Linked DNA regions of Homo sapiens: region 1 is linked to region 2. Evidence: fine-mapped expression QTL. A gene starts in region 2. The other region holds a variant in brackets. All regions are shown on one strand. Distances are from middle to middle. Region 1 overlaps GRAP2 (GRB2 related adaptor protein 2). Region 2 holds the start of GRAP2 (GRB2 related adaptor protein 2).

What was found. PIP is the estimated chance that this variant, and not a neighbour inherited with it, causes the effect. A credible set is the group of variants that fine-mapping cannot tell apart.
Region 1: its variant is the best candidate, but not a certain one, in a credible set for the expression of GRAP2 in whole blood (TOPMed, PIP 0.86).

What each region holds. Positions count from the first base shown.
Region 1 is chr22:39,967,155-39,972,533 of GRCh38, reverse strand. GRAP2 (GRB2 related adaptor protein 2) reads right to left here. Exons shown (of 8, transcript NM_004810.4): 6 at 4,262-4,492; 7 at 3,001-3,123; 8 at 1-1,629. The coding sequence ends at 1,450. Among named protein-coding and RNA genes, the nearest start is that of TMA7B, 9.4 kb to the right of the region's middle. The variant G/A (reference allele first, on the strand shown) is at 3,315.
Region 2 is chr22:39,898,548-39,903,926 of GRCh38, reverse strand. GRAP2 (GRB2 related adaptor protein 2) reads right to left here and starts at 2,843. Exons shown (of 8, transcript NM_004810.4): 1 at 2,597-2,843.

The sequences.
Region 1 (5,379 bases), 69 kb before region 2:
CCAACACTTTCACCCCCTTTCCTGTCTCAGCACACACACAGACACACAGATGCATGCACGCACATGTCCACACATGCAGGAATGCACACATATGCATACACAAGCACACATGTATACACACAGGAGTGCACAAATATGTGCGTGCAAGCACACATGTGCACACCTGCAGGGGTACACACCCATACCCACAAACTCCGAGTGCACTTGGTGCAGAACGGGTTTGCACCCGGCCTCCCCTAAGGCCCTGAGCTTCCTCTCTACTGTCTCCTTCGCCCCTGGCCAGGCTGACCTGTGCTGTGCACCTCCAGAGTGAGCCCTTGGACACATGATTCTAGCGTGATGGGATGGAGAGCGACAGCCATGGTGGGGTTCCTTGCTCCAGGTGCAACTCTTGGGCAGCAGGAGGACAGCAGTGGTCAGACTGAACAGGAAGCTGGTGTCAAAGCCAGCTTCCACCTGGGGTCATGTTTAGTCAATCAATTCATAGTCAGGCTCCTATCATCAAGTGGGCTTCTTTCCATGCCACTGGGCAAGGCATCTTCAAAAGAGAAAATCAAGAGGGAAAATGAACAGAGCCCTGAAGACATACCCTTGTAACCATAAAACAATGACTGTAAAATTCAGCATTCTCAGCTAGAGCTTCTTCAAGCACTTTACGGAATGTAGGATGCTATTTCCTTCATAGCTGGGGAAACAGAGGTTCCACTGAGTAAGCTGCTTGGGGATTGTGGAAAATCCCTCGATTTCCCAGTACTTCGCTCCTCACATTGAAACATTCATTTGAAAGACCCAAGGAATATTAATTTGAACAGAGATGAATGTCTCAGCTAGGTGTTGACTAGGAGGCCAGCCTTGCACAGGCAGGGTCTCTCCAACCCCGTCCTGCCTTCACATCCCCGCTCAGACTCGCTTGGCTGCCCGCAGCACTGGGCTGCACCTTAATTCCTAATGCAACAGTGCCCACCCCTTGGAGAACAGGAGGAGAGCTGCTCTGCAAGCCCTCCAGGTGAGCGGGGCTTGCAGGTCAGCTAGAACGTGCCCCACCAAGTTCAACCCCACCCTGTTGTTCTGTGTCCAGTGCCGAGGTGTGGTCTCTGCTTAGCTGTTCTCCGTGAAAATTCCCAAGACAAGGAGGAAGCAGTGACAGCTGAAGGCCAGGACAAAACTCCATTTCATTTCCCTGCCCCCCTCCCAACTCCCCCACTGCCTTCCACACACCCCTGAGGGGGGCAGAAAAGCAAGTGTCAATATTATTCTCCACCTGAGTTCCCTTTTGCATCAACTAATTACCAGCCCAATTGCCAATAAATTACTAGTATAAAAAGTTGTGTGTGTACACAGGCAGATGTAGATAGATGTATGTATATATAGTCATGGAGTCCAGCCTTTTTTCCTTGCCCTCTTTCTTGTGGGCAGCTCCAGACAAAAAGCTTCTGTCCCCTGAAGAGTTTATCGGGTCATGGGTGCCACGTAGTTGGCAGGGAAGAGGCCCAGCTTGTTGTGCAGGCGGCCGGTCCACCAGGATGGGTTGGAGCTATCCAGGACCTCCACCACCTCCCCGCTGTGGAACCCCAGCTCGTCATCCTCCAGGGCCTCAAAGTCATACAGCGCCCGGGCCCACCGCACTCGCTGTTGGGGGAAGCACAGAAGAGGCTCTGCTGAGCTGTGGGCTGGGCAGGCAGGGGAGGGTCTGCTGGCTCCTCCCACCACATCCAAGTCTTTGAGAGCAACATTCCCTGAAGGCTGACCCCTCTGCAGCTTAAAAAAACTTTTTTTGTAGAGATGGGGTCTTGCTATGTTGCTCAGGCTGGTTTTGAACCCTTGGCCTCAAGAAGTCCTCCTGCCTTGGCCTCCCAAGTAGCTGGAACTACAGGTGTGAGCCACCATGCCCGGCTACCCTGCTGCAATTTAAATCAGATACCTATGCACAGGCCTGAGCAAGAAGTTCCCAGAACGCACCAGCGTCACTCTGGAGACCCAGGACTTTTACCAACAGATGTTATTGTCCAAAGCCCCAATAGACTCCCTGAGAACCACTCTCTCCACATCAATAGGTGGTATTTTTATCTTGAGTGACAAACAGAAGGGCAACATGCCCCAAACAACAGCCCTTGGTGTTAGGGCAATCAAGTCACAAGTCAAGATGGATCACAGGCCAGGCACGGTGGCTCATGCCTGTAATCCCAGCACTGTGGGAGGCTGAGGTAGGAGGATTGCTTGAGCCCAGGAGTTCCAGACCAGCCTGGGCAATATAGCAAGAGCTTATCGCTACAAATAATATACCTAGCTACTTGGGAAGCAGAGGCAGGAGGATCGCTTGAGCCTAGGAGTTTGAATCTGCAGTGAGCCATGATTGTGCCACTGCACTTGAGCCTGGGAGACAGAGTGAGACCCTGTCTCAAAAAACAAAAAAAAGATGCAATGATAAAGGCAATGGTAAAGGACTATGATAAAGATGATAAAGAACTAGAACTGAGAACTATGAGAACAGGGAAGGCCTGGCACCAGACTGAGATCAACAGACTGGACGGTGCTGGCTCAGCCCCAGGCCTCCCCAAACATTCCATCACCTCTCGTTGATCTGTGTGTGCATTTTTGTTTTGTTTTGTTTTGTTTTTTGAGACGGAGTTTCGCTCTTGTTGCCCAGGATGGAGTAAAATGGCGCAATCTCGGCTCACTGCAACCTCTGCCTCCTGGGTTCAAGCAATTCTCCTGCCTCAGCCTCCCAAGTAGCTGGGATTACTGGCATCTGCCACCATGCCTGGCTAATTTTTGTATTTTTAGTAGACGTGAGGTTTCACCATGTTGGCCAGGCTGGTCTCGAACTCCTGACCTCAGGTGATCCACCTGCCTTGGCCTCCCAAAGTGTTGGGATTACAGGTGTGAGCCACCGTGCCCAGCCAGATCTGTGTGGTTTGAGTCTCTCCTGCCTCATCTCCTCCATTGACCTCTGTCCCAAGGCCTTTCCCCAGGGATCCCAGAGAAGGACAGTTCCCATACCCCTGCCGCCTGGAGCTGCACTGGGTCTGTGTGTCTCCGATGCATGAGGGCCGCATTCATTTCACTGCCCAAGCCGGTGCCACAATGCCCATCATTTATGTCAAGGCTGCCTCCTCGGCGTTCCTAGAAACATACAACAGAAGACTGGTCACCCCACTGCCAGGACATCTCCCACCGGTTCCCCCAGTGCCTTGCTCAGATGCCATCCACAGAGCCGGTATATTCCAGGAATACTTACTGATAATGACAATAAACCCTCCACGTTGAGGAGGACCTAAGGTCTAAAGGCACCTTAGATTCTGAAGGCAAAGAAG[G/A]CAAAGGCAGGTTTTATTTATTCAGTCAAGAAATATTTATCAGGCACCTACCATGTTTCCAGTAGCAGACACAAGGGAAATATAGCTGGAAAGAGAAGGTCTCTGGCTTCATGGAGCTTCCATTTAGAGGGGGAACCATGCACATTTAAGTGGTAAGTGAGCAGAGAGAAGAAATGTCTGTATCTGCCCGGGAAATCAAGGAAGGCTTCACAGAGGAGGTCATGCTTGAACTCCAGCTTAGAGGGGTAGGACTGCCCAGGGAGGGGCTCATCAGGCAGAGAGATCAGCATATAAAACGCCACAAAGGCATGAGAGGAAACGCAATGGACCATTCGGGTAACTAAGGCAGCGTGGGGGGTTGCTGGAATGTGTGTTTGCACGGGGAGTTGGCAGGGAGGCAGCAGGGACGAGGCTGGGGAAATAGATTCTGGCAGCTCACAAAGGACTTTGTGTGCCCTGCTAAGGAATTCAGGAATGATGTTATCTGGCCGTATTGTCCATCTCAGTAAGCCGCCTGAAATCCCATCGGGAACAAGGGTGGAGGGAGATAAATAAGTAATAAACAAGGCTCTGTTGTGGGTATTAAGCCTTTTTCTCTTGTGGATCTGACAGCCAGATGGGCTAAGGGGCATGAATAGATTTGGAATTGTGCTGATAGGAAAATGAAGCAATTGTTTACTGGGTCCTCAGGGGAAGTGTGTGTGTGTGTGAGTTTAAGTGTGTGTGTGTGTGTGAGACAGTGTGTGTGTGTGTGTGTGTGTTCAGGTGGGAGCCATTTAATTCATAGAGATGTCTTTGCCAAGAACAGTTTCCCTATTTCTGCCATTTGGGGGGGTCCAGGGTCTTCATCATGAACTCTCTGAGAACTCAAGAGGCTGGGCCAGGCCTGGAGGGGAGGCAGGTTCTCCTTTCCACCGTACTGTGCCCACTGCCTTCTTTCCAGATACCTGGTGGAAATGGTGGTGCTGCAGATATCGCTGCTGTGGGGGCTGCTGCAGCTGCTGGGGCGCTGGGGCATATTGCGGAGGCTGTGGCTGGTGCTGGTGCTGCTGCAGGGGAAGGGTCGGGGGGTGATCCGACAGCTTCCGGTTCATCGAAGGTCGGATTTCTTCTCCCACAGCCCCACTGAGGTGTGGGCCTCCCTGGGACCTCCGGTCCAGGCTGTTGCCCCGGTGACCCTGGGAGAAAGAACAGAGATGCTGCAGATGCATCCTCCTCTCTGATCGTCTGGCCCTACCCTACCCTCGGGCAGTTGTTCCCAGACCCTGCTCATCTGGCTCCAAGAAATAGCTGGTGGGGTGGGGGCAGCTAAAAGATAATTGATGCTTTAGACCTTCACATTTTCCAAAGTGGCCTCTGCATTCTCAGATCCTCCCAGTTTTAGGAGTGCAGGTCTCTGGTTCACAGACTAACACTTTTTGCCTGGTAGCCATTTAGTCCATTTCCAGGGCGCTCGTTTTTTCTCTGTGTAATCAAGCTGAAATATTCCATTTTACTGATACAATGCCACCCCTTCTTATCACATGTTGCCACACCACTGGACAATCTACCCTCCAGATAAGCTCCACTGTTGACTTTGCATGATTTTGAACTGTCATTTACAGCCTGGTGATAGAGACCCAAACAGCAACATTCTTGCAACACCATGGGAACCAGGCCTGCCGCCGGGCTGGACGTGGGGGAAGAAGTAAGGCCTTTTTCCCTAATGTTACAACAACCTTACAAATCAGAAATACCGTATTGTTAGTTTCATTTAACAAACAATTATGTAGGACCCTGAGGGCAGCATATACCAGGCACTGTTCTAAGCGCTTTACAAATATCAACTCATTTAATCCCATTTAATGCAATTTTATATTGCTTCTCTGAATGCCCATCCTAGTGAGTTAATACCTCTGTCCGTTTCCTGGTTAGAGTGATTCACAAGGTCTTGGCTAGCCTTTGTTTTCCTTTCTGAACTTCTGTGTGCATTTGGTGGTAACTTCTTTTCTCCTTTGGCAGTAACTTCTCAGGCTTAAAAGCAACTAGGGACTCGAAAAAGGAGGATTTTCTTGACTTCCCCAAA
Region 2 (5,379 bases):
ATTGAAACTTAATGTTAACACTGTTGAAGAGGACTTGGTGCCTAGTGCCAGGCCTGGCATATAGTAATTGATCGATAAATGTTTGTAAAATGCTTATTTGTTAAACAGGACCATGCTTTCTTAAGAATTTTTAAGAGAAAAGAAAGGGCAGGCCAGGTGTAGTGGTTCACACCTGTAATCCCAACACTTTGGGAGGCTGAGGCAGGCGAATCGCTTGAGTTCAGGAGTTCAAGACCAGCCTGGGAAACATGGCAAAACCCTGTCTCTACTAAAAATACAATATTAGCCAGGTGTGGTGGTGTGTACCTGTAGTCTCAGCTACTTGAGAGGCTGAGGTGGGAGGATCACTAAACCCAGGGTAGTTGAGGCTGCAGTGAGCTGTGATTGTGCCACTGTACTCCAGCCTGAGTGACAGAGTGAGACCCTGTCTCAAAAAAAAAAAAAAAAAAAAGACTCATGAGGCTGTGTTATTATCATTATTATTATTTATTTTTGGAGATCTGCCCACCTCGGCCTCCCAAAGTGCTAGGATTATAAGCATGAGCCACCGCGCCCAGCCAAGGCTGTGCTATTTCTTTACAGACCAAGGTATGCTGGGCAAATACCTCAAATGGACAAAATGGGGACCTAGCGACCCTATTGTTTGATTCAAACAACTTATAAAGATTCTTTAACAAGTTTTGAGTTTGTTTGATAGGGGCACAAAAATGAATCATCTGCCCCCAGGATTATCCAGCAGCAACTGTTACTTATTTAAGAAATCGTGATGGAATCACACTTACTGACACATTTTCGAACAATTGCAGACTTTTCTTGACCCAGGAAAAAAGGGCAAGTTCTACTCAAGCTTAGGCATGAACCCTGTCAGTCATCAACACCAGTGGGTGTTATTATCTGGGAATCAATAAATATGTTGGAACTAGGATCATTTTCAGCTCTTCTAGGAAGCAATAGTTCTAAAAGAGATGGCTTCAGGAAATAAGTGAGAGACATTTTGTATAAGAAGTGGGAAGAAAATGATCAAGAGTCAAAGAAACAACTAATCATGATATCGCCTTGCATTTTTATAGAGCCTTTTTCCTAAGGCACTTCATATCTATGTTAACTCATTTATTCTTACAACATCCCTACGAGGTAGACAGAACAATTGAAAGGGATTTTCACCAGGGCCTAAGATGTGGGAGATATTCAAAAGGATATTGTATTAGCAACAGAGATATTTCTTCATATTGAATAGATTGATCATCTCCTTCTCCTCTGCTTCAGTAAAGTCATTTTTAAAAAGATAAAATCTATTACAATTTGGGGAGAATAAGATTTCAGTTTACCACATGGGAGACACTCCAAGTTCAATCTAAAAAAGCAGTTTTATTCAATAATATAGGGCCACCTCTCTTTTACAAAAAAACAAAAAAGGGTATGAGTCAGATTTTTTTCGTATTTGAAAATTAAATATACTTAGGTGGTCCTCTATTTACACAGTGTTCCTTATTTAATAGCAGATGGTTTTGTAAAGAGAATCACTATAAAATTATTCTATAAAGTTTTACATAAAATACTGGATTGTTAAAGGAGAGTAACTTCTGCTAAATACTCTTTCCGAAACCAAAAATAAGAAACAAAAAGGAGCCACTAAAGAACTAAACCGTTTATGACAAACATTGCTGCATAGAACAAAAGATTCTGCGACCTGAAGTTTCCCATCCTCAGATAACATAACGAGAACACACGAAATTTTTCCCATTGGATGTTTAGATCTAAAACACTTCCCACTCCTAGTTTATCTAGGGATGTGTATGTTCAATAGTGTGCAAATTATGCTGCATACACTTTATTAAGAAGGCCTAATTCCAGGTAGATAAATACGGTAAATTTTTTTTGACAGTATACCTGTCAGGGCAATACAGTACATTTTAAATTAGTGAAACCTTTGGTTGGTATGTTCAATCCTCACGTTCAGGAAGAGTTGGGACAAAGAACACAAAGCAGCTATCTTCAGACTGGACGCCTAAACCAGAGACAGTCATAGGGATGGAGCCTAACGGCTAGTACGAAGAGAGACAATACCCTTCCAAAATACACTTCAACATAAAGTTTTCTTTTCGTAAAGGAATGAAAACTGGTGTCCTTTGTACAGGTAACAAAAATGCGAACAGAACTAGAAATTCAAGCAAAGAGAGAAATCCTGACCTCAGAGTGCTAGTGTTCATTCATCACTGCTCAGCCCTCTACCACCCCCTCCAATCCCTTCCAATTTGGATTAAATTCTGACCATGGTGAAGTGGAATTTTACCTCCATGATCCCAAGGTCGAAAATCTTTCCCTGAGATGCTTCTGAAGCCAGTTTGTGGAGATTTTTGTGTTATGGACTGGGTAAGGAACAAGTGTTCTCCCAGTTCATTTGATAGAAGTCAAATCCCATCACCACAAACATTGTCACAGCAAAAGGTTTAGAGACCTTAGCTGATGGGACTTAAAAGCAATATTTAGAGAACTAGTGAGATTCATTTTAATTAACTCATACAGAACATTCTGCAAATTATAAAACTGTTCAAAGTTTCTAGAGTATATGTACAGATGTTGTATAATGACATACCTTTTGGAAGAGAAGGGGTTGAGTTTATGTCTTGGCTTTGACACCGAGTTATTAGAATCCTTTCTGGCAAGAAGGGAGACAAATTCAAGCATCAGAGTTACTGCATTTCAGAGTATGGATCCACTTTGTGCTGTCTTCCATGTACCACTCTGAAAGAGGGTGCAAGTTTACAGATCCATTAACTGTGCCTCCTCCTCCCCACCTCTTACTCCCTCCTCCAAACTAACCCTAGTCAGCCCTGCAGTCTGTAGGCAAACCACACAGGAACTAGCACATATGGGGCTTCGGAGAGTTGGGCGTGAGCCTTAGATTATGTGGTTTTGTTTTCTTGCTGCCAGAGTTGAACTAAAATGCAGGAGGTTCACTGAAACACTTTTGCTTCTTTATGCTTGGTTTCAGTTTTAACAATATCCCCCCTGAACACTTGTGTTCACATAAGAAAATTTATAGTTCTTGATATGGTCCATCAGCAAGCTGATCTTAAGGAAAACTCTTATTCTCTTAGTATAATCATGCATCCAGAGGAACATTAGGGCTTCTTGGGGGAACTTATTTAAGAGCACCCTCGATCACTCACAATGTTAAAATCCCAGGAAAGATGCTTTGTTCATACACTCAGCCTCTAATATTACTCTTGACAAAAAAAGAAGAAACATTCTGAGCTGGGATGCATTCTCACCCCAGGTTTGCCACAGTCCAGCATGAGGTGGAACCAGTTCCTTCAATTTCTGGGACTTCAATTTCTGTTGAGTCTTAGACTGAAGGCTTTCTGGGATTTAAGACTTTCCATTGACCTTGAGTTTTGTTACCTTCAACTTCCTTAGTTCTTACCTTTAAATGTACCACTCACCCTTCCCCCTATATCAACTGCAACTTGTGAAGGCCTCTTCCTTTCTCTTTGCTCTTGCTAGAAAATGGATTGCCAACGTTGCATCTTTTACAGAAAATTAGAGACATTGCTACTTGCTAAGTGGCACCATTCAGAGTTTGGGGACTGGATCCAAGATGAGGAGGGAAATGTTGGCTCACTGGGATGTTCCTAGCATTAATCCCTGGAATACCAAGAGGAGAGTGTCAAGGAGAGATTCAATTTGGGGTTCTAAAATTTAAACTTTTTCTGCAATGTGAAACGGCATCCTTTTCCATCTCTTTGCTTCTTTATATCTAAACCTTGCTTAAAATTTACTTTCTTAAAACCTTTTCCTTGGTTATAATTGCCCAACATTTTTATTGAAATAGAAAAGAAGAATCAGCAAAGTGTCAAGGTGACAGAAAATGCTCAGTAAATATTTGTCGAATGAGTTAAAGGAAGTAATTTTCTATCCATAACTCCTTTTTTTTTTTGAGACGGAGTTTCACTCTTCTTGCCCAGGCTGGAGTGCAATGGCATGATCTTGGCTCACTGCAACCTCCGTCTCCCGAGTACAAGTGATTCTCTTGCTTCAGCCTCCCAAGTAGCTGGGATTACAGGTACCTGCCACCATGCCTGGCTAATTTTTTTTGTATTTTTAGTAGAGATGGGGTTTCACCATGTCGGCCAGGCTGGTCTTGAACTCCTGAACTCAGATGATCCGCCCGCCTCAACCTCCCAAAGTGCTGGGATTACAGGCATGAGCCACCGCACCCGGCCCTGTAGCTCCTTAATAACAGGCTTTCTTTTTATTAATGCAACTTTGTCAAATTTTCTTAAATCCTGGTTATATCTGAAAAGGATCTCTGCTATTTCCACATTATAAAGATAAAATTTAAAAATAACAACATCTTGCTACTTTAAAAATAATAACGTCTCAACCTTGACCTCAGAATTATTCAGCCTTCTAAGGACCTTCTTGGATCATTACACTGAACAGCTCTATTGCCAAGTTTTTAAATGCTGAAATCCTCTGGCTACAGTCCTTATTCTTTGATAGCTCCCAAGTCGATGGTTTTGAAATGGTTAAAGGAGTCCCTAAAATTCTATGGTTGGGGAGTGGGAGCGAAGGGAAAATGTTGAATGGTGTTACATGGAAAGTATCATGGTGTTTTCAGCTTGTACCCTAATGAGGAAGCTAATTTTGCACCAGGCACTACTCCCCAGGGAGCAGAATATAATCCTTCCCCTTACAAGCATGGGACAGATTGCAGAACAGAAAAATCTCAAAGGCAAGTTATTTTGGTAGTAAGTACTGATTGACAGACATGTTATGTAGAGCATAGTGGGAGGGAAGCAAGGCCACTTGAGTGGTTTATTTCATAACAGCTCTGTAACTGAACGAGTGCAAAGGCAGATCCTAAGAATAAAGACCCTAATGTGAGAATGCCAGCATTTCAGTACTCACTATCATGAGATACTCAGAAAAATAGCAGCAAGATGAGGAGGATACAGTAACATGTGAAATATGGACTTAGCCACAGTGGAGAAGTTTCTTTTTTAAACCATACTTTGTTTAAAATTTTTTTAATCAATTCCTTTTGAGGGGTCATTTGTTTATATCTGAACTTCTGTTTTGTTTTGTTTTTTGTTTTATTTTGTTTTTTGGAGACTGAGTCTCGCTCGGTTGCCCAGGCTAGAGTACAGTGACGCAATCTTGGCTCACTGCAACCTCCACCTCCTAAGTTCAAATGATTCTCCTGCCTCAGCCTCCCGAGTAGCTGGGATTGCAGGCACCTGCCACCACACCCAGCTAATTTGTATATTTTTAGGACAGCTGAGGTTTCGCCATGTTGGTCAGGCTGGTCTCGAACTCCTGACCTCAGGTGATCTGCCCACCTTGGCCCCCCAAAGTGCTGGGATTACAGGCATG